Linked DNA regions of Homo sapiens: region 1 is linked to region 2. The links come from fine-mapping of genetic effects on gene expression. Tissue or cell type: monocytes. Region 2 holds a variant in brackets; the other region holds the start of a gene. All regions are shown on one strand. Distances are from middle to middle.

Region 1 (2,814 bases), 110 kb before region 2:
TTGTAAAAATTAATAAAACGAGGCTCTAAGGGGTGAGAAAATAGAATTTCAGAATCAGAAATAACCTCTGTTAGTGTCCCCCAAACTTCAGTCATTTGCAAATCACCTTTATTAGTTTTGCCATATCTGACTACCACCCATACTATTGTTTACCTAGTATTTTTTATTACGTTGACACACTTGAACTTTTTTTATTCTAAGAAATATTTTTGAAATTATGGGTCTGTGTCATACTTTTAGAAGTTAACATTATAATAAAATAAACTTAAAAAAATTGGTGCCATGCTTTAGAACTTTCTTCAGCACAATACATGAAAATCTTAACACATCTGATGACCGATTAATCCTTCAGTTTCTACTTGCACATCTGCAGTAATCTTAGGCAAGTTCCTTAATTTCGCCATACCTGCTTCGTCATCTTTAAAATGGGAACCCACAGGATTCTTGTGTGGATAAATGAAATCATATATTTAAAGCTATTAGCAGTTCCTGACAGGTACTCGGCTTTCGATAAGTGTTAGCTATCATTGTTAGCTTTAGGGCTGCTTTTTCTTCTTCTTCTCATATTCTCATAATTGTAAAGTCCTTTTAAAATTGTGTCCCCAAAGACACTTCTGTTCCTTTCCCCAATTTAACTAAACTGCCAAAAGTTGAAAAGAGGACTTTAAAGTGACAGGTATACTCGTTATTGTCGTATTTCCCGTCATCACTGCTTTAGAGTACGGAGGTAAAATAATAGGCGGGCGTCAAAATCCTTCGATTTTAGAGCTTTTGCAGGGGATACCAAGACTGAGGTAGAACAGCCCTAAACCTGGAGGGCCGCCTATTGGGCAACCTAGAGCACACCTTTCCTCAGGCCAAACCCAGCGCGCCCGGGGTAGTCTCGAGTTCTCAGGTTACCCCTCAGTGACAGCCCTTTCTTGAGTTCCTTCTCCTTCGCGTCAGTCTCTCGTTCTCCCACCCCGCCCCTCTAGACCAGGTGAGGTTTCCTCCCTCACACTCCTAGGGGACATCGCGTCAATCTGGCTTATATATTGTCTCCTCTGAGTTTGATCTTTCGCTCAACGCCTAGTCACCTGTGACTTAGGTTTCCGTCTCGCCGAAGAGTAGCTACTGCCTAGTGCAAGCACCTTTGTAAGACCGGCGATCGCAGTGGTCGCTCTGAGCAGTAATATTTACCGGCTTAACTGAAGCACCCGCTCTTTTGCTTGCTGGGAGATGTAGTCCCTGGGTTGGCCACTTTAGTTCATCGTTGCTACCGCCGGCGTCCAGAAGACTACAGTTCCCAGCAGGCCCAGGGAAAGACAGGATACCCTGGGTCGGCTCCTCCACGTGACCACCCACTATGGCTTCCTAGTGTCAGGGCCAGCTGTGTAGTGGCTCGGTGTGATTTGTTAGCTCTTTGAGGCAGGGTACCCTCCTCAGGATTTCGATATGCAAAAAATCAAATCTCTCATGACCCGACAGGTAAGTCGCGGCGGCTGAAGCAAAGGCTTCCTTCATCTCGGAAGTGAGAGGAGCCGAGATGTTCTGTCCCCAACCAGTGGCGGGCGGGGATCTAAGTTATGGGTGGTGGCAGGTGTCAGGGGGACTGGGAAGCCGGGGCATACCCTAGAAAACTCACCTGGGCCGCCTGGGTTGGAGCACTGCTCCAGCGGGTACCAGCCTCCCAGAAATATTCGTTTAAAAATAAGTCATTGAAGGAATCAGGGTATCTTTGTCTCCCCTCCTCCTCTTTTTGCCGTCTTTCCAGAACAGCCCGAGCTTCCTTGCAAGGTCTTCCGCATCCAGGCTGTCTGTCATATGCGAGCTGATAGCCTGGGTAGGGTGGTGTGGTCTGTGCAGTAGAGGTGACCTGGAAAGACTGAAAACGGATGATTTGAAGACAGAATTAGTAGCTTTTGGATTTTGGGCAAGTCCCCAAACTTTGTAGCTTACGTTTCTGGATGTGAAAATAATTATTTTTGTTCATTTTACTTCACAGTTCTGTTATGAGGGTCATCGATAAGCTAATATATGTGAAAACTCTTTGTGAAATTCTGCTTTAAAAAATTTATTTTTGTCATGGCAAAATACTGATCTTTTCTTTTTTTTCCCCAGAATGGAAATTCATGAATAAGAGCTTTGGCTATTTTGTAACCTGTCTCATAAATGTTAGGGACCTCGTAATAATGCCTCAGCTTCATTTAAGAAGTGCAGAAATTTTCTTTTATGTACTTATTGATTATGACTTTGTTTTAGCTGCCTTTATTTACTTCAGCTTTAATATTTCACTAGAATTGGTCATTTTATTATTTTAATATGAAAGATAGTTAAGATTAGAGTTTTAAATCAACATGGCTTTTAGAAGTTTGGAGAATGTGGAAGGTAATCGTTTAGTGAAAGGTATATTTGTGAGTTTTTTTCTTGTTGATTACAAAAATAACTCAAATTCCACATTCTTATTTGAGAATTCACAATTTGAGAGATATATAAACAGGATACAAATTGTGTATTTCTCTTGCACAATGCACAAATGACCCTTACATGATTATTTTAGTTATGTCAGAGCATTTTGTTAATGTTATGAAAATATAATCAAAATGTTCTGTGAATAATAAAAATATTTAAGTAAGTGGCTAGTAACATTTGTTAATTCCTCACATGTGTTGAGTACTGGTGTTGTGCGTCCTACTACTTCTTACTTGACGATGAGTTTGGGTCCTGCTGTATCCTGTGGCAGCTGTGTGACTTTCGGCAAGTTACATAACGTTTTTAAGCATCTATTTCCACATCTTTAAAATAGGAATAATGTGTGCCTTATGGAGTTAGCCT
Region 2 (2,814 bases):
GTGGAAGGTGAGGAAGAAGGGGAGTCATGAATGACTGTAAGGTTCCTTACTTGTTTCTTATCAATAACTACCAGAATTAAATAGCATAGACAACCAATTGGTGCCAAACAGTATTTAATTTTGTGAATTTTTATTCTCCTTTTTTTTTTCTGCTGGAGTAGGGTTATTTCCTTTTTAGAGGGAAATGAATGATGGAGATACGACATTAATTAACTTGCATGGATCCATGATCCTGCTTCTCCCTAGAGGAAGCACAGTTATTCCCCAACTAACTTTTAAATGCTAATTGAGTAATTAGAGATTGAAAAGAGACACTGTCTTTAGGAGAAGATAGGAAATAAAAAAAAAAAAAACAGAACTAAAGAATTAAACCACTTTCTAACTTGAAAAGTTTTATAATTTTTATTTGCATTTTGCTAAATTTATAGGAGTAAATTATATGTATGCATTTGATGTCTCATTTATTCATATGGAAAATAATTGGAGATTTGTTACTATCAAGTTGCTGTAAAAAGTAATCTAGCTTTATATTTTGTACACTATTAGATGCGTTTACATCCAATTTTTGTGCTAAATTTTCTTTGAGGGTTTTTTAAAGCTATTTTATTTGCATTTAAACATTTAGTTTTGCTATCTGCCTACTCATATGTTCTCACCTTTAAACTCCATAATAGAGATAACCATGGAGTGTTTTCCATACTGAAAGTAGTACATAAACTGCAGGGGTTGTATTATATAATGTTTAGCATCTCTTCTAACTCTGTCATTCTATGATTCAATCAACATTTTAAAACTTTGAGTGGGGGCAGGGGTTAACTTGTATTCAGATTAACTTTAAAAAAGATAATAGCATTTTTGTACTATGAGCTATTGCTTAACTTACATAGCTTTTATTCTATTTTTTTTCTTTTTGTAAATTTCTCTTATGGAATTTTTTAAAAAATGTAATGAATGGAATTCATTGCCATGTCAGTACTGTAAAACTCTATAGTTAAACTAAAAGTATAATGACCATTTGTAATTCAAGCTCATTGTTATTAGAAATATATTTGGTTATAAAAGTTCTTAATGGCCTTCACAGTGAAGTGACCCTGGATTATACTGTCATCAGTGATGTTAAGATTCCTGCAGTGTCACTACCTTGACCTCTCTCCTTCGTGCCCCAGAAAACAATAATTAAAAGTCTCTTTCTCTGAGGTGTAATGCAGCAACTATTCAAATAACTGTTATGATGATGCCAGTATTCTAAACAGCCTTCTTTCATGTTTGCTGTACAAAGGGAAACTTAGTCACCAAAATAAGTTTATATTAAGTTAAATATTGAAATATTTGGAGTGATTGGTAACTCTTGAGCTGGCAGTCTTCTGGTACTCTGTCAGCTACTCCGAGTAGCCAGCCTTGTGCATCTTTAC[C/T]CATGATCTCAAGATATTCCCATCCTCCTGGCAAAAAAAGGTGGCCAGTGTGCCTGGGAGTTGAAATGTGTTTTTGTTTTTTTAACTGTTTGCTAAGAGCTTAGTAAAAAATGAGTCCCTTGCTATGTATTGAGAAGTTGAGTAAGTGTATCTTTGAAACTCTTCCTTTGCCAACCTGTTTGTTTATAACATAGGATATGTTTATATGAAGTCCAAGAATGTACATAAACTCATATCCAAGGCATTCGTTGCCTGGCATCAGAATACCTAGAAAGGTAAATTAGTAATGAGAAGATTTCTAATGAGTATATCATCAGATGAAAGTAAAACTGAGAAATTTGAAGTCCGATGAGTTTTCCCGACCACAAATTAGACTGCATCACTCCTGTTGACTACATGGCTGTGTAACTGAATCAGTGGTTCTCTCCTGGATGGTGCTGAAGAGCCTGGCACACCCTGCTTCCTGGGTATCCCTTTCCTTTGTTCACATTGACCATCTTCCTTCTTATCAGCAGTCTGTCCCCAGACATATACAATACAGTTGGCTCTGTTCTAGTTTATAACTTCATTCTAGTCCTGCCTTCTTGAGATTATATACCAGGGTAACCTTCATTAAAATTTGGGTGTGAGATGGTTAATCAAAAAATAATTTTGGATTTTATCAGCATGGTTCTCAAGGGGTAATCATATTTCTCTCATTTACAAGTTCTTGAGGGCCATCTCACTGTTGTCACTGTGAAACATCTGTCAATTCATAAAGAGTCCTTGTGTTGACAGACTTTAGGTCATGTACAGATGGTAGCATGTAGAGTTGGATGATATTATGTAGGCTCATTCTCATTTAGGATTAAAAAGAAGGTTCCAATAGTTACAAACATGAAAGCAGGATAAAAAGAACTGAACCTAAATGTAATTAACGTGTGCCCCAAGAGTATTTTAATTTTAATTCTAATTTTGTCAAAATCACGTGGTTTATTACTGTTAGATTTGTTATTCCAGGTTGTATATCTATTGTATTTTCAGGAAGTTTCAGCTGATCCTACTGCCACACTCACAGCAGCAGAAGAAAGAAAGGAGAAGGTGCCAAGTCCACACCTCAGTCACCTAGTGGTTTTGACATCTGGGGATACGCTGTATGGGTTGGCAGAAAGAGTGGTAGCCACGGAATCCTTGTAAGTTGTTCAAAACAGTTGCGTTGCCATTAAATATTTAAGAAACTTTATAAAAGAAGCATTGTTTAATTAGACTTCTAGTTAGCTGCATACATCTACCACTTCTAAATATCACTTATATGTTTCTGAGAAGTATATTCTAACACAGATTACCAATTGATTTTTTAAACTGCATGGTTGGTTTTTCAGTTATAGAAATGGAAAGAAGGAAATCTTTTAATTTTCAGCCT

What was found. PIP is the estimated chance that this variant, and not a neighbour inherited with it, causes the effect.
Region 1: it holds the start of VPS50, and the variant in region 2 is the best candidate, but not a certain one, in a credible set for the expression of VPS50 in monocytes (TOPMed, PIP 0.51).

What each region holds. Positions count from the first base shown.
Region 1 is chr7:93,231,034-93,233,847 of GRCh38, forward strand. VPS50 (VPS50 subunit of EARP/GARPII complex) reads left to right here and starts at 1,333. Exons shown (of 28, transcript NM_017667.4): 1 at 1,333-1,467. The coding sequence starts at 1,435. It also overlaps a transcript of HEPACAM2 not described here. RefSeq lists enhancers at 1,034-1,103, 1,244-1,413, 1,504-1,553, 1,794-1,853.
Region 2 is chr7:93,338,992-93,341,805 of GRCh38, forward strand. VPS50 (VPS50 subunit of EARP/GARPII complex) reads left to right here. Exons shown (of 28, transcript NM_017667.4): 23 at 2,436-2,584. Among named protein-coding and RNA genes, the nearest start is that of VPS50, 110 kb to the left of the region's middle. The variant C/T (reference allele first, on the strand shown) is at 1,413.